Linked DNA regions of Homo sapiens: region 2 is linked to region 1. A link means that fine-mapping ties the variant in region 1 to the expression of a gene that starts in the linked region. Tissue or cell type: fibroblasts. Region 1 holds a variant in brackets; the other region holds the start of a gene. All regions are shown on one strand. Distances are from middle to middle. Region 1 overlaps DSP (desmoplakin). Region 2 holds the start of DSP-AS1 (DSP antisense RNA 1).

What was found. PIP is the estimated chance that this variant, and not a neighbour inherited with it, causes the effect.
Region 2: DSP-AS1 starts here. The variant in region 1 is fine-mapped to the expression of DSP-AS1 in fibroblasts (GTEx, PIP above 0.99).

Annotation. Positions count from the first base shown.
Region 1 is chr6:7,559,628-7,570,239 of GRCh38, reverse strand. DSP (desmoplakin) reads right to left here. Exons shown (of 24, transcript NM_004415.4): 5 at 7,460-7,588; 6 at 6,454-6,504; 7 at 4,720-4,881; 8 at 3,759-3,863; 9 at 2,791-2,886; 10 at 2,334-2,459; 11 at 1,651-1,803; 12 at 900-1,054. Among named protein-coding and RNA genes, the nearest start is that of DSP-AS1, 22 kb to the right of the region's middle. RefSeq lists an enhancer at 7,738-9,313. The variant A/G (reference allele first, on the strand shown) is at 4,087.
Region 2 is chr6:7,533,504-7,549,361 of GRCh38, reverse strand. DSP-AS1 (DSP antisense RNA 1) reads left to right here and starts at 6,279. Exons shown (of 2, transcript NR_183331.1): 1 at 6,279-6,316; 2 at 8,309-8,911. It overlaps DSP (desmoplakin), which reads right to left and starts at 7,691. Exons shown (of 24, transcript NM_004415.4): 1 at 7,277-7,691. The coding sequence starts at 7,446. RefSeq lists an enhancer at 9,703-12,481.

The DNA of each region.
Region 1 (10,612 bases):
ATTATTGGCTGACATATATACTACAACTTTTTGTTGTTGTCTTGTTTTTCGGCAACTTTGTAATTGACAGAGGTCTAAGGCAGGATGGCAGGTGCATTAGATGCCAATGACCCAAAGCTTGGTCATGAGCACACAGCAGCTTACTACACTACTCTCCCTATTCAGTGTGTGGTTGAAGATTTCGATACTAAATGGTTTAAAGGAATCTGCCATGGACAACCTGTTAAACGAATGTTCTTCCTACAATGAGTGAATATTGATATTAAAGGCATTTTATATTTGTAGCTACATGTATAACAACTGATTTTCTAAGAAAAGGAGAACCTTAAAATGATGCCTTTGAAGTGCATGACAAGTATTATTCACTCTGGCCCCACTACAGTCAGACATTCCTTTTTTTTTTTTGAGATGGAGTTTTGCTCTCGTTGCCCAGGCTGGAGTGCAGTGGCACGATCTCAGCTCACTGCAACCTCCCCCTCCCAGGTTCAAGCAATTCTCCTGCCTCAACCTCCCGAGTAGCTGGGATTACAGGCATGTACCACCACACCTGGCTAATTTTATATTTTTAGTAGAGACAGAGTTTCTCCATGTTGGTCAGGCTGGTCTCAAACTCCTAACCTCAGGTGATCCGCCCACCTCGGTCTCCCCAAGTGCTGGGATTACAGGCATAAGCCACCACACCCGGCCAGATATTCCCTTTTATTCTTCAATAACGACTGTCTATTCAACATAAAATTGCAAGACAAAGTGAAGGTGACCTTCACAAGGTTCCTTTTTTTAGAAGGTGTTTATTATGGCAAGGCATCGTGTGTCTAAGCTTCAGGTATAAACACCTGCCCTCTTCCTCTGCCCTCACATTCATGCGTGCATGCGTGGCTTTGGGAACTTGGATGACTTACTTGCAAGAGAGGTCCACGGCCAGTGGGTTCGGAGGAGGGATGATCAGCCCCACAGAGGGAACAAGCATGTCAACGCCTCCCGGGCCCGTCACGTACCACTTGCTGCGCTCGTTGTTGTCCTTCAGGATACACTCATCCCCCTTATGCACGATTTTCTGTAAGGCAAGCAACCCCAGGGTTTGGCTTTATTCATAAGTATGTGTTTTTATTTTTTTTCTCAATGATGGAAACAGAGATGAACACATGCGAATTATTAAAGCTTTTACGTTTTTCCCCTCAAATGAAGCTGATCATCATACAACCCAACAATACCGATGCTTTAAATAATACATGTGAGCCTAAAAGGTATACATGAAGTGAGCTACATTTTATTTATTTATTTGGTCTCACTGTGTCACCCATAGTGAGAGACATTCACTTTATATGCAACATAAAAGCATCATTTCTCATTTCTTTTATCAGAAATTTAAAGATGAGAGTGATCACAGACAACTTTGACATACTAGAAGAAAAGTATTAAGCCTTGCGAATTTTTAAAAGTTCTAAAAATAACTACTGTCCTTGTTATTGACAACTACCATATGATTCAGAACAGAGCTGCTGCTTTTGTTCCATAGCTGCTGATTTCATAGATCAAAGACATTGACTGTGGTGATTATTGAACTCTAGATTAAATGTTGCTTTCTTGATGGACAAAAATTTGTGTGTAAAGACAGGGAAAACTTTTGTATCATTCTAAATGAGTACACACCTGATCTTGTTTGTAGTCACAGAGAGCTCTGAGAATAATGGGTTTATTGCTTCTGTAGTCTGGGTTACGAGGCTTCAGCTGTACAATCTTCTTAGACTTGTTTACCAAGTTCTGCACCTGACGCTTGTATTCAAGGATTTTCTCTCGTTCTTTCTGCAATGGTGAATAAAATCATACTTAAACATAGATACCCTGTGAGTTTTAGAGGAGATTTTCAACCTGCATTAATGTAGCTACATGACACACTGAGTATCACTGCAGTTGCATCAATTGTAAAAAATCACAAATTCGTCGGCAGGAAACATGAGAACCTTTCATGACAACACTCTCCAGAAGCTATGCAGGCAGGAATTAAGTGGGCAGGGAAGAACATCCTTGTGTGAAAGGGCTATGCTGATAAAATTTGAAGTATGCGTTCCCAAAGGAATTGTCATGTGAAGTAATGTTCTCTCTGTTCTTATTTTCAACCAATTGCCCAGACTGAAGCAAAAGTAACTGTCAAGAGTAGTTGGGCATGTAAAGAAGTTAATTTTGAGAAAAGCCACTGGAAGCTGAAGAAAATGCTTGCTTGGCTCTGGGCGTGCATTGTACAATAATACTAATCAGAGCCAACTGCATCCAAGGCATGTGTTTTATCTCCCTGATCAGGCACAGCTGCTGAGGTTCTGGGTCTGAGACGATACCTCCAGCTCCTTGATCTGTTCCAGCAGGTGCTGCAGGGGCATGTTCTTGTCGCAGGGGTACTTCTTCCTGATGGAGTCCTGGAGCCCCTTCAGGTATGCTTCAGTAGACTGCGCCTCTTCAAAAAACTGTGAAGGATGAGAGTGATCAGTGAATGAACAGCAACTCAATGAGCAATTTCATCTAGTAGTTCTGTTTCAAGGATTGTCATCCCTAAACATCTCTTTGACAGGTGGCTAAAGGAAAAAATTCGTGCAGAAAGTATTTAGGTATGTGGCAGCGGGAAACTATTTGTAGGACTGATGGCAAGGTTGCAAATCTATGCTACTCTGCACTCAAAATCAATGAAGAGGATTTATGCAACATTTTGAAGATTATTTTCAGTGCTTTATAAAACACACTCAAAAGATTAGGTATTAAGACCTAAATAACAACAAAATTATCACTAAATATAAAAACCTGAAAGTAGGCAGCATTTTCTTTCAGATGAACATCAATGCACTTGGTGATCTGAAGAATCCAACTCCACTGCGTCTGCAGAGTGTCCATATAGGCCTGAAACAAGAAAATGTCAGCTGTCTTAGCCTAGCTCAGTTGTACAGATGCATGAACACCAAGAGATAGGTGAGCCTGCATGAAAGCTAGTAAGCAGTTTTTATCTCATTCTAAGTCAAGCAGATATTTTTCTAAAAGTTGGAAAGAGAATTTCTCACCATATATCTCTTGGTATGGTCAAAACTAAATTTTAAAATCAGCTTTCACAAATAGACACCATGAGGAGTCTTAGTCAAAATATGTATCACCCAAATAGCAGAGATACTGACCAATCAGAACTGTCACTGGGGCTAGCACTGGAGTGGCATCCCTTTGCCACACCGAGCCCTGTTCCTGGAGGATTGCTGAATCATGGGGAGGTTCGAGGCATCCAAGCAAAGGGCTTAGGGGGCTCAAGACAGTGATTCTTACCAACTGATATGGAACTTTCTGTGTTTTTTAACAAGCAGTATGGCCATACCAGTGGTACCAGCTAATGTCAGCCTTGAGCGTGGCCCAAAGATGGCAGTCTAGGGCAGCGGTCACCAAACTATAGCTCAAGGGCCACATGTGGCCCACTTCTATTTGTAAATAAAGTTTTATTGGAATACAGGCACACTCATTCATTTACACAGTGTCTATGCCTCCTTCTGCACTATAATAGCAGGGTTAAGTAATTGTAACAGAGACCAAATGGCCTGAAAGTCTAAAATACTGATTGTCTGGTCCTTTCCTGAAAAGAGTTTGCCAACCCCTGGTGTAGGGTATTGATCCCAAAATAGAAAATAAAGTTGGCACGGCTTTAAGTCATATAAGAATTACTCATTTGGTTAGTCTTACTTTATGAAAAGTTTTTTTTTTTCTAACAAAAATATAAACCTCATGAAGCCTACCTCAATTTTGTCTGAAGCTGGATGCTGATTGAGGACAAGTTGGTCACTTTCTTGTTTCAGCTTATTGAGCTCTTTTTCTTTAACTTCCAGTTGACTCATGCGTATCTGTGAATGAAGAAATAAGAAATCCTTTGCAGCAAGTCATCATTAAACTTCCATCACCCCCACAGTACTTTTTAAAAGTGAAATACAAAACTGCATTTTGGAAATGAACAATGCCAAAGAATCACGCTGTTTTCCTCAAGAATCACAGCATTTTTAAGGCTGAAAAGGATGTTTGCTACAGGAGAGGATGTGGCAGAGGCTTACTCAAGATGACACAGGAGGA[A/G]AGAAGAGCTACATCCATCCTGAGGTTTTCTAATCCCAGGCTTCCACCCACCCTCCTGCAGTGCCACACACATCCTGGGTTATCTGAACGTACCAGTTCTTATCCTCTCTAAACAAACTACGGTCTTCTGGGATATTAAACAAGGTATTGCCCCTCTTTTTCTTTTTAACTTTTATTTTAAGTTCAGGGATACATGTGCAGGTTTGTTACACAGGTAAACTTGTATCACAGGGATTTGTTGTACAGGTTATTTCATCACCCACGATTAAGCCTAGTACCCATTAGTTATCTTGCCTGATCCTCTCCCTCCTTCCACCTCCACCCTCTGCCCTCCGAAAGGCCCCAGTGTGTGTTGTTGCCCTCGATGTATCCATGTATTCTCATCATTTAGTTCCCACTCCTAAGTGAGAACATGTGGTATTTGGTTTTCTGTTCCCGCATAAGTTTGCTAAGGATAATGGCCTCCACACGGAGAAGTTTTCAGGAAGGAAGGATTTTTCACGACCATTTCAAAGAAGGCTGAATTGCAAGTGGCTGATTAAATTATTAATAGACCAATCATTCCCCGAGACCCCAGCTCTTCAAGGCAACAGGCTCAAGACAAGCATCTACAGCCGCGTGGGGTGAACTTACGGAGAAGGCCTCCTGTTTCTGAGCGATGTTGGTGTTCTTGTCGCTCCAGTCGTACAGCAGCTCCTCCTCCTCGCAGTCATTGATCCACATGATCTCCCTGGACGTGGCCTGAATGATGTTCTGCAGCTGTCGCAGGTGATCCATCCTCTCAAAGGACGCTTTCTGCACAGGAGGTTCAAAGGCAGCATTAAAATAACAATATGCAGTGACTGGTGTTCTCTGCAGGTTTAAAGATTAAACCTGTGGTCCCTTTAAAAAAAAAATCACACGGATAGGAAAAATGTTAACCTTGTGCATTCACTGACCACCTGGTATGGGAAAAGACCCATCCAAATCTGCAATGAACAAGAAGGCAGCAACTTTTTTTTTTTTGAGACGGACTGTCGCTCTCGTCTCCCAGGCTGGAGTGCAGTGGCATGAGCGATCTCGGTTCACTGCAACCTCCCCCTCCCGGGTTTAAGCGATTCTCCTGCCTCAGCTTCCCGAGTAGGTGGGATTACAGACATGCACCACCACGTCCTGCTAATTTTTGTATTTTTAGTAGAGACGGGGTTTCACCAGTTGGCCAGGCTGGTCTCGAACTCCCAACCTCAGATGATCCGCCCACCTCGGCCCCCCAAAGTGCTGGAATTATGGGCGTGAGCCACCACACCTGGCCTTAAATTTTTTTTATTCTTCTAAATAAGGTCTTTTTTTGGTATTTTTTACTGATATAGTTGTACATATTTGGGGGTACACATGATATCTGGACACATGTATACAATGTATAATGATCAAATCAGGATAAGTGGGATATCCATCACCTCGAACATTTATCTTTTCTGTGTGTTGGGAACATTACAAATATTTTCTTCAAGCTATTTTGAAATATACAATAAATTATCATTAACTATAATATCCCTATTGTACTATCAAATATTAGAACTTACTCCTTCTATCTAACTGTATTTTTGTACCCATCAATAATTAGTTTTGGACTATAAGGGGGAAAATGGACTGTTAGAGAAATCAAGCTTTTCCTACCTTCTCCCCAAAAATTCAAAGTGCCATAAGTCACACCCCAGCCCAATAGGAAAATCACTGTGTCACCACGAGTGACATTATTTAAAAAGTATCATTGCCAACAAGGAAACATTAAAAAGTAAAGATATGATGACACAAATAGGCAAAAGAATGGAAATCTCTCCTCTTATGAATCAAGTAACTGATATGACTGAGTGTCATAAAATTGTGATGACGATCTGGTAGACCTCTATCTTGAGAAAAATAACTTTTATTTTTGCTTACACTTCGTAAAAAAGACCACAATTCACAAGTGGCAACGTTTTCTTGCTTCAACTGCAAGTACTTAACAAGTGCCATTTATGTGACACAACTTGAAAACAGAACAGCAGTAGGGACTGACTTCTGAAAACAACTTTTAGGCCGGGCGCAGTGGCTCACGCCTGTAATCCCAGCACTTTGGAAGGCCAAGGCGGGCGGATCACTTGAGGTCAGGAGTTTGAGACCACCCTGGTTAACATGGTGAACATGGTGAAACCCTGTCTCTACTTAAAAGAAAAAAAGAAAAGAAAACAACTTTTAAAATTCACTTCTAAAGGAAACTCAGCAGCAGCAACAACATTAGCATCGATGAACAGGTGCCTCCCCGCCAGGATGTGCTTGATATTTCTTGAACTGAATTGAATTGGAAACAACAGAAAGTCGATGCACTTGAGAAATAAATCAGCTTACCAGCAGGTTTTCATACTCCTCCTCCAACTGGTAGATCGCAGATTTCTCGCGCTAGAAGACAACAAAAAGCAGGTAGATATAAATCCCCTTGTGGATTGTATAGAAAAGAGTGGCCCTTCTAAGCCTCCTTTTCTTCAGATACTGGCCTCAGATCCCTCCATAGAAAGAAAGAATTACTAGCTCTATGAGATATTTCACCCATGGGGACTTTTTCCTAGGCGGTTGGAAAGCAAACCCTTGCTGGCCTGGCAGCACCGTCTCCACAAAGGAAAGCCCAGATCAGGGTCACTTAAAGACTCACGTGTTAGAAAATTGTCTTAAAGTTTAAAGACATCATTTAGGATTCCCTAGGTCTTAGAGAAATGAAGGAGAAAGTTGGTCAGGGGCTCAGGTGGACAAAAGTAAGCCCCAAAAAGCCAGAAGAAGAAATGAGGATGAGAAGCTATGGTCTCAGGTAAAAAAAAAAAAAAAAAGTTTAGTGATTTACAAGTGTAGAGACCTGCGGGAAACTAAGCACTTAAGATCAGTTATGATTTTATGCTGTAATTCTCAACCCAGTTTCAAGTCTGACTTTTTTCAGCATGGGAGCGGGTGTCGGGATGACATATGGCTTTGCTCAGTAGAAATAATGTTTTAATTACCACCTAGGAAAGGATTCACCAATGACACAAACTACTGTATAAGACTGTTGCATTTCCCCTATTCAAAAAGATGTTCTGCTTACCGCAGAAACAAACTGCCACCCCTAAAGAGACTTATTCACAAACTGCAAATGAGTGTTTGCACAACCTCAGCCTCTGGTTTAACTCCTCTTCAAGTGTTAACATAATCTCTAATAGGGCTACTGATTCCACTTCCCCATTTAAGAAGTGGGATTTCTAAACATTTCCAGTCTTCTGGGAAAGAAATAATAGCAATGTTTCAGAAGAAACTCCCTGGGATTGAGTAATTACACGATCCTTCGGTAGATATTTTGAAGACTCTAAAATGAAACACAGACAAGTACCAGGTCGGCTTTGATTTTGTCCAGCTGCCAGCGATAGTCGCCGATGGAGTTGTGGATGCCCCGGTGGCTGTTAATGTGCTGCTCCACTGAGGCCAGGTCCACACCCCAGGCCACCATGTCCATCTCCGCCTGCGACACAAAGACAAAGAGAGGCGCCCTTTGTTGTTGCCCCTTTGCACCTGTTTCACTTACGCACACCATCACGGCTTTACTTCAGATAGAACCAAAGATGTAAATATGGAGTATTTTTGAAGCCAGAATATTTTTTAAAGGTTCCCAAATGGCTAATGCAGGGTTGCCAAATACTTCCCTCAACTTGCTTGACCCCAGCTCAAGATGGGCAGAGAAGGAAATTTAGAAATGGGAACCTGAAAACCAAGATCATGTCTTCTGAAAAAAAAAAAAAACCAAATCTACCTGTGCACAGGCAAGCAAGCATGTGCACAGAACATATGTGTGCATATATATGTATGATATGTTATAAAATACTCATTTAATCATTCTTAAATGTGCATAAAAAAATCATTAAATAAATGCAATCATACACTGTTCCCCAAACTAAATAGTCAACCTAAAAGCATCTTTCATTGTTTATTTCTTTATATTGTCTTGATGGATGTAATTATTGGCTTTTTAAAATCCAGGATATACCATTCCCTTTTAGGATGCAAAACTCCCTATGGGCCACTTCAAAGGGAAGTCACTATATCTACTCAAGGATTCAATTTCCATGAGTGTTGGCAATATTAGGATTGTGGACTTAAGTTACCTTTTTTAAAAAATTAAATCTGACTAAATTTATTATTTGAGCCTCAAATTTAAGAATGTTTCACAATAAGAATCACACACACTGTTCCGCCAGTTCCACACTGGGGCAAGTCCATTATCTCACCCTTCTTTTGCATGAGTACATGTAAATTTCCAAATCACCTGTGTCATCTCTTGGACATGCCAAGGGCAAACATTCCAATCTGGGATTGCAGCAAGAACATAAAACACATTGTTCTAAGCCACATCCATGTTCTAATACACTTGGCAAGGCTTCAGAAAGGGGAGCCATTTCAGAGTCAGACAACAGAAGGTTACCCGGGACTTTGACCCTTCTCTCCCACAGCTGTCTCGGCTTTAAACCAGAGACAGCCAGGTGCGTGCAGTGGGACATTAGCAACGTGACCAGGCTCCAGCTCAGGCGTCTCATTACCAGCCAGGTGTATCGTATCTGACCTGTCCATCGGCAAACACAAATCGGGAAAACAAAACAAAAACCTGGCTCAGGAGTGCCTGCCTCCTGACTGGCTGCTGGGGCAACAGTTCCCTTATCAGCTGGGCCCTGCAGCTCAGTCTCCTGGGAATGAGGTAAAGCATGCAGGGGAACAAGCGATAAGAGGAAAGGAGCCACAGCAAATCCCAGAGCGAACCTGCAGTAAGCAATCAAACAGCTTTTAGTTTGTTTGCAACCATGAGGGCTGCGTGCCTAACCCGGAAAGCATCGCTTATCAATTGCTTCTGTTAGAAAACGACATAAAACTGGCTGGGCGTGGTGGCTCACACCTGTAAACCCAATACTTTGGGAGGCCAAGGCGGGCGGATCACAAGGTCAGGAGTTCGAGATCAGCCTGACCAATATGGCAAAACCCCCGTCTCTACTAAAAATGCAAAAAATCAGCTTGCCATGGTGGCACACGCCTGTAGTCCCAGATACTCGGCAGGCTGAAGCAGGAGAATTGCTTGAACCCGGGAGATAGAGGTTGCAGTGAGACGAGATCATGCCACTGCACTCCTGCCTGGGCAACAGAGTGAGACTCCCTCTCAAAAAAAAAAAAAAGAAAATGACATAAAACTGAATTCATGTGGTAATACTTTTCCAAAATTTAAAGACATTGAGCATTTACTACATTCTTAAGCTACACCCAACATAAATACAAAAAAATGACAAATTACAGGCTGTCTTTTTTTATAACTGTCATACTAAGAAAACTTTAGGAGATATGACATTTCAAACTAATTTGATTGGAAGGCTGTTTTGCCCATCATTGTGGATCCTTAAGATGTAGTTAAGCCCCATCAGCTCCGCTATGTCTTCCTGTGACTGTTCCACTCCACAGGAGCTGGCCACCCTCCCCTCTAACTAAGCAAGAATGTATTATAGCTGATCTAGACAGAAATTTGGCATTTGAGCGTATGCATCTTGTTTTCTTCGATAACATTCATTTTCAGGACTAGGGACCATAATCTTTGTACCCTTGGGTGGCACTACATATAAAATCCTCAAGAAATGTGCTCGAAGATTAGAAGGAAATTTGAAAAACATACAAATAGATTTGTATTTAGGTTTCTGATATTTTAACTGACTTTTGTTCTTTCTAAGCCTTACCTTCTGTAATAGCTTATATTCTTTATAATAAATGGGAGAAAAAGGTAACTGAATGAATGAATAAATGTTTAGTCACTGAAGTCCTCACTACTTAGGAAAGAATACACAAAAATTTTAAAGGAGTTGAGAAATTTTAGAACCACTGCTGAATTAGTCTAACAACTAATCAAACCAAGCTTTCTTACAACCACATCTAAATTGCATAACAATCTCTCCACAACTTATCACTCTAACACATCCACATTCTCAAGGGAAGGGTTAGGAGTAGGTTTTCATTATAAAATTCCCATCTACATGATTGTGGCATATTTCTACCACCACCTGTTCATTATAGGACATAATGACTACATGAAACAACACAACAATCATTAGTCTTGAAAAATACTTTGCAGAAACTCCAGTTCTAGGGAAAGGATCAGCATATCCTTCCAACATTATTTTGCTTCACTCCCACACTGGTGACGTGATGGTTGCACAATGAGACAACTGAGACTTCAAAAGTCTAAGGTAAGCAACCAATGAGCCTAAACCAGAATGGCTAGTTTCACTGTTTCCAGCTCCTCCAATCTATGACCATTTTAAATGAACTGCCACAATGGGCTTTTTTTCAAGTACCTATGAGTAAAACAGATGAGGTCAGTTGCCACTCACATAGAACAATGAAGTTATTTAGCACATAAACTCCCACAACAGATCTTTCCGGTGGTCAATATAAGAACTGGATATTCAAAGTCTACTAACTAAATTACACATGTTAAATATGACCTGTGTGATAAAGG
Region 2 (15,858 bases), 24 kb after region 1:
GCCTGACCAACATGGAGAAACCCCGTCTCTACTAAAAATACAAAATTAGCCTGGCGTGGTGGCGCATGCCTGTAATCCCAGCTACTCAGGAGGCTGAAGCAGGAGAATCGCTTGAACCTGGGAGGTGGAGGTTGCAGTGAGCCGAGATCGCGCCATTGCCCTCCAGCCTGGGCAACAAGAGCAAAACTCCGTCTCAAAAAAAAAAAAAATTCATTAAACACTCTCTATATACATCAGCTGAAATGCTGTGTTAGCCATCCTTCAAAAGTTCAGAACTTCAAAAGTTACAGCCTTCTGCAAGGAGTTTTCCATATCACACCTCTGCATCCTCTCCTCTCTTGCATTAGTTTAAACACACCTGGCTACCTGCTCCTGGAGAGCAAAGTCCCATGTCTTAGTCATCTTGGACTCCTACAAACACTTAACCTAACAACATAAATAAGGTTCGGCACACAGAAGGTACTTAATGAATGTTTGTTTGGCTTAGTAAAGTGGAAGAAAAACAAAGGCAAACAAAAGACCCATCTGAGGGTATTATGGCTCATCTCATTACCCTGATTTCAAAAGCTCAACCAGAGAGCACAGCTCTCCCCTCCCCATTCCCACTCCAGCAGTGAGCAAACATGGTGGATTTTTTGTCTCTATAGATTTTAGAAAGACAGCCTCCTTTGATCCTGCATTTTGTCTTCGCCCAGCAGCTACAGAAACAGTACTCTAATAAAAGTTCTGCTTCTTTTCCAGGCGGTTTTCTCGATTTTCACACTGTGTGTTTGGCAGATTGTGTTTGTGGGATAGTGGAAAACTGATCACATATCATTAACTTCAGAAGGACTTTGAAGTAGGGCACAGTTGGAGTCCACGCCCAGCTCAGCCACTTCCAGTTATACAGCCTGTGACCTTGAGCAACTTAAAGTGACATCCACTGGCAGTGCCTGGAGCTTCTGCCTCTGTGACAGGTAGAACACCCCCCTCCTGGGGCTGAGGTGAGGCTCAGAGGGGCACTGCAGAGGCGGAGACCTCACTTAGTGATAGCTCTTACTTGCGGAGGCTGCTGCTGTTGTTATGGTTCTGAAATTTCTTTCTTTCTTTTTTTTTTTCACGGAGTCTCGCTCTGTTGCCCAGGCTGGAGTGCAGTGGCATGATCTCAGCTCGCTGCAACCTCTGCCTCCCGGGTTCAAGCGATTCTTCTGCCTCAGCCTCCTGAGCAGTTGCGACTACAGGAGCCCGCCACCACGCCCAGCTAATTTTTGTATTTTTAGTAGAGACGGGGTTTCACCATATTGGCTAGGCTGGGCTGGAACTCCTGACCTTGTGATCCGCCCACCTCGGCCTCCCAAAGTGCTGGATTACAGGCGTGAGCCACCGCGCCCGGCAGAAATTTCGTTTTTGTGTTTTGTCTTTGCCCCAGTCCATAACTTTAAGGATGTCCTGCAGCAAAATGGAGGCGGGGTGATAAGAAAAAAAAGAGAAAGAGGAAAAGGAAGAAATGGATTGGGTATTAAGTGTGAGGCATTTCAGGAGTTCCTCAGGTTCCCTACAAGACTCAAAAATAACTGAGACAATTCACAGAGAGTGATACACTTTAGCAGCATGAAAGAAACTTATTGAGGGTAAGAAAATTCAAAGGCCAGGTGCACTGGCTCTTGCCTGTAATTCTAGCACTTTGGAAGGCCAAGGTGGGAGGATCACTTGAGCCCAGGAGTTCAAGACCAGCCTGGGCAAGATAGCGAGACCTTGTCTCTACAAAAAAAAAAAAAAAATTTTAATTAGTTGTGTATGGTGGCGCACGCCTGTGGTCCCAAGCTACTCGAGAGGCTGAGGTGGGAGAGTCACTTAAGCCTGAGTGGTCAAGACTGCAGTGAGCTATGATCATGCCACTGCACTCCAGCCTGAGCCACAGAGCAACACCCCATCTCAAAACAAACAAACAAACAAACAAAATGTAATTCCAAGCAGAACCTTTGATCTGTTTGCTGCAGCTTCTCACTAAACTGTCTTCATTTTCATGAAATGTAGATTTCACATTCATGAGCCCTTCCAGCCCAAGGTGTCGGTGGTGAGCCATAAATTATTGGACTGCACTAGTATTTTACAAGATGTCACCTCAAATGAGCAGCTCATGTCTGAGTCTTAGGATCTGTGGGGCCGTGACTTCAAAATCAGAACCACATCTGAACGTTTTCAAGCGGCAGGGCCACTGGGACCAGCCCAGCGGGAGGGAGATGGAGAAAATCAAGGGGTGAGGCACTGCTCCCAGCTGCAGCAACAAGGCCTCCAGACTGAAACCACTCCTTCTAGAACCTCCTGGTCTGGAAAGACTGGTTAGCTGAGAGTCAAGACACACTCTCCAAGTCTCACACCCAAGCCCTCCTTTGCTCCACCCTAAGAAGTCAGCACTGAGGCATCAGGGGCATCAGCAGTTTTTCCCTTTCCAAGACACTTCCATTACCTGAACAATGAAATTATGCCCATATTTAGAGAAAAAAATGACTGTTGAAAGCTGTATTGTCCCATTAAATAGATCTGACTAACAATTAGTTGGCTTAATGCAGAATCAAATTGAGTTTCTTTTTTCCTAAGCAGATAGAAACTCTACAAGAGTATTAATGAAAGAATACAATGATTATGAAATATTTCACAGGAACGCAGACTGAGGAATTCAACAGATTAAAAATAAGTAATAACTCAGATAGAAAAGGGTTTACAAGTAGAAAAGGTGAATTCTCACACTGCAGGTTTAATCTTCTCTTGCGTCATTGTGGTATACTGGATTCAAATCTAGCTTAACAACTTAACTAGCTGTGTGACCTTAGGCAAGCCATTTAAATATTTTAACCTCAGCTTCCCATCTGTAAACTGGGAAGTTTGTTATGAGGCTTGAGATAACAAACATCCTATACAAGGCACATCACAGGTATTTGCTGGGTAATGGTAACTATTATTAACCACAGACCTGATATTTTTATAAAATATACAAGTTAAATTTAATAACCATGTAAATGTTACCTGCCGTATATTAAGCTAAACTAAATCTTGCTTTGCAATAATTTCCCAGAAAAGTGTTTAGACTATCTACGCTATGAGTCACTCGAGCTCTGGGCCTGTTTTCTCAGACTCTCCCTTGTCTCTCGCATCCAATTCTTAGCTGAAGCTGTCACTCCACCTTGGCAATACCTACTTTTCCATCCACTGCCCTCACCCTGGTTCAGACTTTCATTCCCTCCCTCCTTCACTGGTGCAATGGCTTCCTTAAGCCAACGCCTAAACAGTCCAGAAGCTCAGTTATGATCGTCTCACTTCCCTGCTCCTCCAATGGAGGAGACTTTCAATGGCTTCAGTGAAAACCTGCACCAGCTTCCCTCTGCCTATCCAAATCCCTCTCCGGGGCATTCAAGGTCTCCAATGCCTTGGTCAAAAAAGGATGCTTCTTCCTTTCATCTTACTGCCTCCCTGCTCAGAGAGAATGCTCTAAAAGGAGATCACTCCACAGGCTTCGCAGACTTTTCTCATGCTCTTCTCTCCCTCTGGAAGGCTCTCTGCCCACCCATCCTGACACAGCTGAAATACTCCAAAGTCTAGTTCGACACCACTTCCTTTATAAAGTCTTCCCAGTGCCCCCACGACAGATGTTCTCTCACCTCCTTGTGAAGTCTCTGAAGTCACGTACACCCCTCCTGTGCATTCCGCTTTTGCGTGCTAGTCTTCGTGTACTTATCTTCCTTGGAAGGGCCTACACTCCTTTCAAGGCTATAGATTTCCACCTTGATCTCCCCTGACACTTAACACAGAATGCAGTCAATGCTCGGTAAATACTTGCTGAATTAAGGAATTAATGGAATTTGAGATACTTGCATGGTGTAATTACAGGCCTGTCCATTCTAAAAGTCAGGCTGTGAAGGCACAGGGAAAACCAAGGTGAGGATCCTTGGGTCCTCAGGCCAACCCAGCCCTAAGTGGATTCTAGGATCTTCGGCACGTCCTCAGCTTCCTGTCTCTGAAGTGTGCGTGTGGGGTTTCTGCCTAGGCTAAGTGATCCTTAGGGGTCCCCCCGCTCTAAAATTCAGGCAAATTGACCTGTTTGTCTCATAGTAAGAAATAAGCTTCTCTTAAAACCTAATTTAAGACTAACTTTAAAATGTATATGAAATAATGATCACACGTATCTCAGTTTTGAAATCATGAGATCTGAAGAAAAATAAGCATTAATATTATAACCACATATTTCTGAAACTTAATGACTATTTTCTGCTTTTAATCCTCCCACAAATTCACCCTTTGATGGGTGAAAGAAAGATCTAACTGTGAGACTTTGTTACTTTGGTAACAAATTTCACTATTTATAATTTGTTTTAATGACAGGAATAAGACTAGAGTAATTCTGCTGTAATTGAAAACAGTATTAATATAATGTCCTATCCAAGAAGAATCCAAAATTTACATTTCAAAACATGTACATGTCTATTATTTCATTATCAAGGTTGTAACATTTACCAAATGTTAACAAAATTAAGTAGTTGCAGATTCCATTCAATCTAAAACAAAGACACAAAGAACAGGCAGGTGGTCGGGGGAAAAAGAGGGAATTAGGATACAATGAGATCTAATACTGTCCTAAAAACGGGTAAGTGCTGTTCGTGGAAAGGACAGAGAGAGAGAGAGATGTTTTAAAGTCATTTTCAAAGGAAAACTAAGAGTTGGGCCCTCCACACATTCAAATTTCTTTATTCAGGGAAGGGCTAGATACAAAACACTCATCTCAAAAATCACCAATCTATTAATAATTCAGCCATAAAGTAGCAGTTTTTGAAATAAATGAGTTTAAAGTCAACCAATAGTTTTTATACTAGTTTTCATGCTAAAAAAAAAAAAAGAAAGAAAGAAAAGAAAACCACAAAAACCTTTATTTAGAAAACCTTCGGGTCAGAAAAATACTTATGAAATTCTTAATCATCATTCACTTAGCAGAGAGCAGTGGCTCCCTTGGGCACAGAGGGCACCCTGCTTCTACAAAGTGCACGCCACAGCCAAACATATCCCTCCACACAAAACCAGAATGCCACCAGAAAAACTGCGACATGCCCTGCCTTCAGGCGGTCGCTATTATTTGAAAACGCAGAAGTCAGCATTTGTGGGCTATTTTGTAGTCAGTAGCACCACTGCAGGCTGGGTCAGGCTCGAGAGGAACCTCCATTGCCAGGATCCCCGGAAAGAATGACCGCCTCCCGACTCAAGCCCTGAGCTTGACGCCCTGCTGCCGGGCAGAGCAACATTAATGAGAAGAAAAAACATCCTTCCTCAAAGTCAGGTAATTTTTCACTTGGGTCTCTTTCCCCTTCCCAGAGAGATGTGAGACTTGACAAGTTTGTAAGTAGGCTTTAAGTTGGAAAAACAGAGCACGGGATGATACTACACAAGGAAAAAACATGGAGCCTGCCCAAAATTAAATGTTTCAATGGGGAATCCTAATAAAACATGTACCTTGATGCAGTTCATTAACCACTTAATTTATTAAAGTTTTACTCCCCTACAAAAGGTATAAGAAGCCAAGGGAGTGAAATATTCGATTAATAGTACTGATTATTGTCTATTTAAAAGATAAGAAATCCAAGCTAGCAAAAGCATAGTTATAAATAATAATCAAAATAAATACTTGGTTCATGAAAACGCCAAAAAGAGCTACTAAAGAGTCCTTCGCATTCTATTCTGACTTGGATTTAAACTGTGTGTAACCCACACATTTAAAGGATGTGCATCTCAAATCCTGGAGGACTGCGGGAGAAAATTTAAATTTCAGATTTAAATGGCTGGCAAAATTTTAAAACAAATGTAATGAAAACCCAAGTTTTCATTCCTTCTATTGCTTGGCACATTTTCCCTGGAAATCCCCAGACACATTTTGTTCAGGAAACAAAGAACTCCAAGATTGAGACAATTCTTTGCTAACTCAAAAAAAAAAAAAAAAAAAAAAGCGAAAATAGATTTTCAGGATGCCCCATAAATAAATAAATGAATCTAAGCAGAAAACAGGTTGCAACTCGAGTAGTCCCTGCCTTCAAAACTGCTTGCAAAACAAAACTCCCTGGAGCGCATTCAGGTTGCTCCTCCCAGGCCTAGGGCCACAACGCCTGGTAAATAACGTCCCGGCGCTCAGGGCCTCTTTCCCAAAAGCCCGACGTGGGAACAACTAGCAGGGGGCGGGGAGGTGGGGCGGGCTGCAAAACGCGCACGGCTCACGTGGGCATCTAGAGTCCAGCTCCCGAGACCCGGTCAAAGCAGGGACAGGATCTCTTCCCCACCCACCCAAATGACGCCCTCGGTCTGTTTCCGCTGGGATCCGGAGAAGCTGACCCTCTCACCGGGGGGTCTTCCCGGGGCGCCTAGGCCAGGGCGGGCCCCCAGCGTCGTCCTCTCCCACCCCCCCACTCCCCTGCCCACACATTCTGGATCAAAGCAGACATGCGGCCGGCGCTCTGCGATCCAAGGCACACTGGGGTCTTTCATCCGGTGTTTTTAAAAAGGAGGAAACAAAAGGCTCAGAGGCAGGGCCCCAGGTGCGCTCGCCCGCGGGGGCTGCGGCGCGGACGACCGAAGGTAACAGGCACGTCCCGGCCGAACTTCGAGACCCGGGCCCGGCAGCCGCCCCGGCGGGGAAGTTTCGTTTCCCGGACAGGGGAAGCCGAAGCGCCTCCTCGGGACAGGACCCCGCGCCGCCGGGACGCGCAGCCTTGATACAAACGTCCTTGGGTGGCCGAGGAGTCCAGGAGTCGTTGCAGTCGTGGTCTCGGGGTTACTGGGGATTGGGGGTGAGCCGGTAGAGACTGCGGAGCCCCGAGCACCACTCGGCCACCAGACAGGACCGGGGCCCCGCTCCTTTCCTCTTTTACTTTGATTACGGTTGGAGAGGTTGGGTTTTGTGGTCGCAGCCCCACCTCGCCTGACCTCCCATTCGCGGGCTGGGACAAAGGCGGCTGCAGCCGTGTCCAGCAGGCAGGGGACAGCCCCGCGCGGGCCCGACGCCCCCTCTGACCACCCGCCCGGGCTCGCGGGAGGGGAGAAAGGTACGACCGAGTCCCTGTTCGCAGGACAGGGGCCAACCTGTCCCCGCACGCGTCAGGACACCCGGTCCTGCTCCCAGCGCGGCCGGGAAGTTCTTTCGGGACCTGGGGCAAAAAAACCTTTCCACCTTCGGGACCCGAGTCTCCCAGTCGTCCAGAGGAGGACGGTCCCTCCCTGTCCCGCGAGCCCCGCAGCCCGCGCTCTCCGGGCAGGTACCCACCAGTAGCCGTCCGAGTTCTGGTCGGTGATCACGCCGCGCCGAGAATAGTACATCCTGCTGGTGCCCCCGCCGCCGCTGGTCACCTCGTAGCGCAGGTCCGGGCCAGACTCGGCGCGGATCATGCGGCCCAGAGTGTTGATCCGCGGGTGGGAGCCTCCGTTGCAGCTCATGTCGGCGGGCAATCGGGAGAGCGGCTCAGCGCCGAGGCATAAGCGAGGCGGGCCGGCGCGGAGAAAGCGGAGGGGGCCAAGGATAGGCGGACGGCCGGGGAACCGGGCGGGAGTGCGGAAGGCTCGCGAGGTCGCTGCTCGCTACCTGGGCCCTCCCGAGGCCGCTGCGAGCGCGGAGACGGCGACGGGCCGGGGGCAGGAGCGGGAGGAAAGCTGTGGCTCGGAGGGCGGCAAGGGCGCAGAGGAGCTGCGTCGGAGCTGGGTGTTGGTGTTGGTCGGCGGCGGAGCGAGTCTCCTCCCCGCTGGCACTGGGCGCCTAGGCCACACCTGGCCGGTTTCTTCCCAGGGTGGGGTGCGGCCGCCGCGCCTTCCCCGCCCCCCCGCGGGTGTCACCGACGCGCTCCGGCCGCCCCTCCCCACCTGCGCCCGCCGCCCGCGACTCCGCCCTGCGCCACCGAGGCCTGAGTAACACCGGGCGGGGCGGGGGCGGGGTCCCCGAGACCCAAGCGCCCTGGGCGAAGCCACCGCGGGGAGGACCTGCGCTCGCGGGGGCTGCTGCGCTCTGCGCTGGGGCCTCTCGGGCTGGGAATGCGTGGCCCGGCTTTTGAGGATTTCCTCGGTCCCCGGGCGGAAATAGCTGGAATGGAGGGGCCTCTCGATTGGAGACTTACTGGTCAAATATTTACTTTTGTTGATCACTGGAAACGCTACCTACCACGCATTGACTAGGACCACAGTGAGGAGGGAACGCTTTAGATGATAGAGTTTTGTTTGGGGGCTTTTTTTTGTTTTGTTTTATTCCAGGAATTCAGGAAATTGCCCCAGAAGTCCGATTTCTGATGTGTAAAACCTTTTTTTACAGAAAACCACGACTTCCTGGAAAAGTCTTCACCGTAAATATTAATCTCTTTGGCATGAAGAGGAAAACACTGCAGCTAATTTTTCATGGGATAACAAAAATATAAACTGCAATTTCTTTTATTTTTTCCCTTTCGATGGTCTTTTTAAACGAGGAGTAAAGATTTCAACGCCAGGTCCATTTTCCAAATTTTGTACCAGAACCTTGAGGATGCTTGTCTCTCGCGCGCTTCTCCGCAGACCGAACCCTCTCCGGAACTCAGAGCTGTTCACCCAAGTCAGCGGAGGAGGCCTCCTGGGACTTGAGCCTGAGGGTGGCGAAGAACCCTAGGCAGAGATCATCAACTTGGTACCGATGAGTGACGCGGAGCTTGAACATTCCAGCGACTTGCTCCAGGGCCACTCCCAGTTAAGAGGCTGAGTGTTAACTGCAAGAGGCTGAGTGTTAACTACGCCGTTGGCTCCAGGAACCGAACCGGGTTTGGATACAGACCCAGTCACACCATCCATGAAAAGCTGTTTCTATAATATGAAAAATTGTTAAATGACGCTTTAGTAAAAGCCATTTAAAGATCTTTTCTAATAAATTTTTCATCTTTCCAAACAATGCCGCTAATTACCTTCTGATACAGTGCGTTTCCAAAATGTTTATGAACTGAAAACAAAAATAAAAAACTACATTTTTATGTTGTAAAGGGAGTGGGGGGGACTTTCTAAAATTTGTCGTATTATAGCACTTCTCATGACAACTTGACCCTTTAGGCATAATTTTTGACAAAATGTCTTGTTCTTTTTCTTTTTACAGCTGAACGTCTTAAATTCAAGGAGTAAACACATATAATGAGATAAAAGTTTATCACTGTTAGCACAACCAATAATTTGCATCGTAGTCTCAATTTCCTCGAATCTTTAATAAAACCAAAGTGGTCAAGTGTTTAAATGATTATACAGATTGAGTACCCCTTATCCAAAATGCTTGGGACCAGAAATATTTTGGATTCTGGATTTTCTTGGATTTTGCAATAGTTGCATAGACGTAACGAGAGATCTTTGGGGATGGAACTCAAGCCTAAACATGAAATTTATTTATGTTTTCTATATGCCTTATACACATGGCCTGAAGGTAATTTTATACAATATTTTAGATAATTTTGTGCATGAAACAAAGTTTTGACTGCACTTTGACTGCAAGTCATCACATGAGGTCAGGTGTGGAATTCGCCACTTGTGGTCATCATGTCAGTGCTCAGAAAGTTTGGATTTGGGAGCATTTTGGATTTCAGATTTTCAGATTAGGGATGCTCAACCTGTACAAACACTGATCTATAGACAAGACGGTGGTTTTTCTCAAACAGAATCAATGGCTGGAAGTCAGCCTCTGCACAAACAGCCCATAATATCCATTGGTGGAGGAGAGAAAGACATGCATGGAGGGAAAATGTCAGTGCATAATGTACAACATTTCATTTAGGATGTTTTCCCTCTATGCATCTCATTTGTTCAGCAAATAATTATAACCTAGGATATGGAAATACTCTGCAACATACAAAGATAAATAGGGTCCAGTCACTGCCCTTAAATATATTATAGTAAAACTTTGATTTAAGAAATTCAGGGGCCCGTGCGGTGGCTCATGCCTGTAATCCCAGCACTTTGGGAGGCAGAGGCGGGTGGATCACTTGAGGTCAGGAGTTCGAGACCAGCCTGGCCAACATGATGAAACCCCATCTCTACTAAAAATACAAAAATTAGCTGGGTGTGGTGGCAGGCGCCTGTAATCCTAGCTGTTTGGGAGGCAAAGGCACGAGTATCACTTGAATCCAGGAGGTGGAGATTATATTGAGCAGAGATCGTGTCATTGCACTGCAGCCCAGGTAACAGAGCAAGACTCTGTCTCAAAAAAAAAAAAAAAAAAAAAATTCAGGGATTATTCTTCCCTAATGTGTAATAAAGAGGCTACACAATTGCACGGTAGAATTATCCTTTTAAAAAAAACCCACATATCTATTAACCACCCCCCCAGTGGTAACAAAAGCTCTTGTTAGCCAAGGGTCCCCTTACGGTCATAGGAACCAGGCTCCACACAGACCCAAACACCACCCAGACTCACAAAACTGTTCAATCTGCAGGCAAAACAGAGGAGGAGGCGAAGAGCCCACGCCACCAATCACACCTCTGGCTGCGTTGCTTCCTCACCCATCTTACTGCTTCCTGGGCTTTTCCAGGCATCCCCAAGAACACGAACGGCTTCCAGCTACCAAACATGCCTGCTCTAGGAAGACAGTGGCTTTCATTTATCTTTCTCTAAGGGTGATAAAGAAAGATAAGAGGATAAAATAAACAGATTGACATGCCCGACAGATGGAACACCCCCCACCTCAACACACACCCACACACATGCACATACACACACACACACATCAGTTGTCCAGGTTGGCTCATCACACAGTGAAGAGCGAGGATAACTTGCCCATAGTTATAATCTTAGTGCTACAATTTACTTATGCAAGAGCTCAATTTCTTCATGTGTATAATGGAAATAACACTTGCTCTGCCAACCTTCCAAATCCACAGTGAGGGTCAAATGAGATAAAATACGTGAACATTCTTGAACACTGTGAAACATATAAAGCTTAAGGTACCACCTGTTAAGCCAAAAGTTCTTTGCTGGATGCGAAATTTTAACCGTTAATGTTCCTGTCTTTATCCCACATGTAAATCAGTAAACCTCCCTCTTGGACACATTTAAGATGCATTCATTTAGAAAGCAGTTATTGAACATCTACCATGTTACACAACAGATTCAATGCTAGACACATGAAGATGAATAAAGCATGACTCTTTTTCTGCAGGATATCAAAGTCTGCAGTAGTAAAACAAATAATTACAATACAACATTAAGTATGCTATAATGAAGGTATATTTATAGAATTTTGAAAGCGCAGCAAAGAGGTTTAAAAGTAGCTTGTTTTCTTACAACTTGGTTTAAAAAATCAGAATCCAAAGTCTGGCAGAGTCTTCACTGGCTGACCTAAGGTCAGCTATTTTTTCCCTGCCACTCATAGATAGCTCCCCTTGTACTGATAAAACAGATCACTGACAGGCAACTTTCTCTCTGGCTGACCTTAGAAATCACCTTGCAGTTAGGAAAGACGAATCAGTCATATTCAGAGCAGATTTTTAAAAGAAAACGACACTTTGATTTCAGTGAGATTAAGAAGAATCATTTACTTGCTCAAAATCCCATGGGAACTCTCTATATCTTTGTGTTGGTAAATGATACCTCTTCATCACAAGAAGATTTATAGCCCATGAGTTAAAATAACTGTTCTGCCTAACAGAGGAGTAGTTCTGGGGTTTTTGTTTTGTTTTGTTTTGTTTGAGACAGAGTCTCACACTTGTCGCCCAGCCTGGAGTGCAGTGGCATGATCTTGGCTCACTACAACCTCTGCCTTCTGAGCTCAAGTCATCCTCCTGCCTCAGCCTCCCCAGTAGCTGAGACTATAGGCGCACACCACCACACTGGACTAATTTTTGTATTTTTTGTAGATACAGGATTTCACCTTGTTGCCCAAGCTGATCTGGAACTCCTGGGCTCGAGCAATCCACCCACCTTGGCCTCCCAAAGTGCTGGGATTACCGGCATGAACCACAGTGCCCGGCCAAGGAGTAGTATTTTAATAAGTCAAAATTACAGGCAGAAGCTAGGATTGGAACCATAATGTGAAGGAAAAGAAAATGCCTGTTAAAATGTCAGACAATTAAAATCTTAATAATAAAATGGATATGTATATTTTACTCTTTCTTTTCTCTTCCATTTGTCTGAATAAATTAGAATCCTCCAGAAATAATGAATCTAGGATCTGAATTATCACAAAAATAAGATTGGTCTCTCCTAATTAAAATTGTCAAAATGAAGAAAGCTGTTTGACAAAGCTCGTTTCAAAAATAGGAAAATGTTTGTAAAATATATACATTAACCCCAAACTATCTTTGGTTTACTTGGTTTAAGTGTCATTCAGGAACAGGGGAGTTTGTCTGTTTGCAGTGATTTTTCATTTTTGCTGGGGGAGGGTACTTAACTTTGTGGAAATTAAATAGCTCAAAGGAACTTCTCATTTTTTGTCACTGAAGTGATGAGTTTTTATTGTTATTGTTGTTGCCATTTGGTTTGTGTTTGGCACAGGTAAATTGTGCTATCCATTGTGCTTTAAGAATATGTTTTTTGGGCCGGGCACGGTGGCTCATGCCTGTAAGCTCAGCACTTTGGGAAGCCGAAGCAGGAGGATAACTTGAGCCCAGGAGTTTGAGACCAGCCTGGGCAATATAGTTAGACCCCCTTCCTACAAAAATACAAAATACAAAACTTAGCCTGGCATGGCCGTATACACCAGCTACTGGGGAGACTAGAGTGGGAAGATCGCTTGAGCCTAGGAGGTCGAGGCTGCGGTGAGCCAAGATTGAGCGATTGCACTCCAGCCTGGGTGACAGAGTGAAACCCTGTCTCCAAAAAGAAAAAAAATAGAGTAAGTTTTTGACTGCTTTTCATTGGATAGCATGGATATTGGGGATTCATCCATACTTTCCTGCCTGATCCTGTTTTCATGTAGCACCCAGATTTGCAAGATGCGAGGCTGGAGGTTAAAGTTCCCGGTGAGGGCAAGTACCGCTATGGACCACAGAGGAGCCACTCACACCCATGGCCAAGTGACATCTAAAGCTAAACAATAACTCCCACTTACTTTAGTGGGTAAGCCACACAGTCAATAAATATAATACAACAGCCAAGTAAGTTTACCTTTTGAAAATACTTTGGAAGTAATTTTCTAAGCTTATCATGATTGTGAGGGACTCTCAATCTATAGAACATGCTAGGATTGGAACACTTACTCAAACTTATATATATACAAATGCAAGATGCAGATTATTGCTAGTAAACCCAGTTATCAGCAAACACCACATGGAGATATAATGTGCTAATGGTTACGTGAAGAAACTTTTGAATAGCTAATCATCCTTTACTGAAGGCACTCAACATTTATATTCCATAGAGAATTTCAGAAACAGAAGCTTGCTTAAAACATTTTTGCACCAGTTATTTAAAAACTGGTAAAGCCTCAGAACTCATTCTCCAAATGAAACCCCCTGAGCATGGCCACCAGTGGAAACAGATCATGGTGGTGCCAGAGTGGTTGTAGGACACTTCCCACCCGCTGCACCTGGACCACACGTGCTCTGTCCAGGAAAGCATGTCCCCAATGTAAGCACTATATAAACCAGAACTCACCTTTTAATAAAGAGAAAATAGTGAGTCCTGGAGAAGTTAAGAAACGTCCGTGAGTTACTTGATACCTAAAATAGCAGAATTCCATCTGTTTCTAGTCTCATGCCCTTTCCATTATGTCAAAATTCCTGTCCCATCAGTCATGAAAGAACACATTTCTGAGCAATGATTTGGTATCAACTTGAAACCAAGAAATTATCCCATCAATTGTTATTTTCTTACTTTTTTTCCGGAGACAGGGTCTTGCTCTGTTGCCCAGGCTGGAGTTCAATGGGGCAATCCGGATTCACTACACCCTAACTGTCTAGGCTCAAGCGATTCCCCCACCTAGCCTCCTGAGTAGGTGGGACCACAGACATGTGCCACCACATCCAGCTAATTTTTTTATTATTGGTAGAGGTGAGGTCTCACTATGTTGCCCAAGCGGGTCTTGAACTCCTGGCCTCAAGTGATCCTCCTGCCTCAGCCTTCCAAAGTGCTGAGTTTACAAGCATGAGCCACTACACCCAACCTCAATTGTTATTTTCCTCCACTAGAGTAATAAGCCTGCTTTGCAGAAGTCACACCAAAATGCATTACAGTTATTATTGAATTAATGAATTTATTTATTTATTATCTATTTTTAGAGATCTCACTATGTTGCCCAGGCTGGCTTCAAACTCCTGGGCTCAAGTGATCTTCCCACATCCAGCTACTCTTATTTTTTTTAGTTGTATTCCCAAAGCTGTGGTGATTTTCTTGGTGTCCTCAAATTACAGTGCATGTATTTGCATGTTTTGTTTTGTTTTGTTTTGTTTGAATGTAGCTTCCATTGTTAAGAAAAAATGAAATTAGAGATTCATATACTAAACATCATGAAATCAAAATGGACACTAAGACATAAATGATCTGACTTTGGATGATTGTAATGCCAACGAAATGTAACCTGGTTTCCAAAGTGACCACCTTTCAAAATCTTAGGCATCAGCAACAACAAATTTCATAAACCATTTGTTTCTTATCATCATGAGCTAGTTATTGCACATACATTGTTTCCCTGCTACAGATAGAGGTGTAGGTATACGGGAGACTAAAGAATAAGAAAAACGTCCAGATTTCTGTCTTCACTGATCTTAACATTTAAAGCAGGAGACAAAATATCAAACAACCCACTGGTTATAATAGCAACACACAGAAAATGAACATCTAGGCCAGGTACAGTGGCTCACGCCTATAATCCCAACACTGGGAGGCCAAGGCAGGCAGATCACTTGAGGACAGGAGTTTGACAGCAACCTAGACAACATAGCGAGACTTCATCTCTACAAAAAATACAAAAATTAGCTAGCATGGTGGCGCGCACCTGTGGGCCCAGCTACTCAGGAGGATCACCTGAGCCTGGGAGGCAGCGGCTGCAGTGAGCTGAGATCACCACTGCACTCCATCCTGGGCATCAGAGCAAGACCCTGTCTCAAAGAAAAGAAAAAAGAAAGTGATCATTTAAATAGAGCAGGAGCTGGGGGAAGGTCATCTTTAGTTTCAAGTTTCAACTGACTCCCCTCATCTAGGGTCCCAAAAAGTTTGGGGTTTTTTGGTTTGTTTTTGTTTTTATGGTTGTTTTGTTTTTTTGTTTGTTTGTTTTTGCTTTTTTTTTTTTTTTTTTGTCAGAAGCTTGGTAAGATCACAGATCACAGGGAAGAAACCCTATTCAAACTCCTCATCTTATCCTACACTGGCTAAGAGAAGTGAGGCCATGAGAAAGAACCTGCATTACTTGCCAAGGCCCAAGTCTGTAAAGGGCAAAGCCCAGATTGGAGCTGAGAGCTCACACAGCAAATCAATTAATAGGCTTGCTTAGAAGGATGTACCTGAAGTTAGGATGTTTTTTCCTCCTGCTTATAAAAGTCTATGTATTTGCTGTAAAATACTCAGAAAAGGCAGAAGGGAATGGAGAGAAGCAAAGAAAAGCAAAGCAAATTATCAACCAGACAAGGTGATCATTCTAAATATTTTTGGAAGGTTCCTTCCAGTTTTTTCCCCTAATGAACTTTTTAACCAACCAATGTCAGGTTATATACAAGTTTGTATTCAGCTCTTTTTTTTTTTTTTTTTTTTTTTGGAGACAGAGTCTCGCTCTGTCACCCTGGCTGGAGTACAGTGGTATGATCTTGGCTCACTGCAACTTCTGCCTCCCAGGTTCAAGCAATTCTTCTGCCTCAGCCTCCCTAGTGGCTGGGACTACAGGCTCCTGCCACCACGCCCGGCTAATTTTTGTATTTTTAGTAGAGACA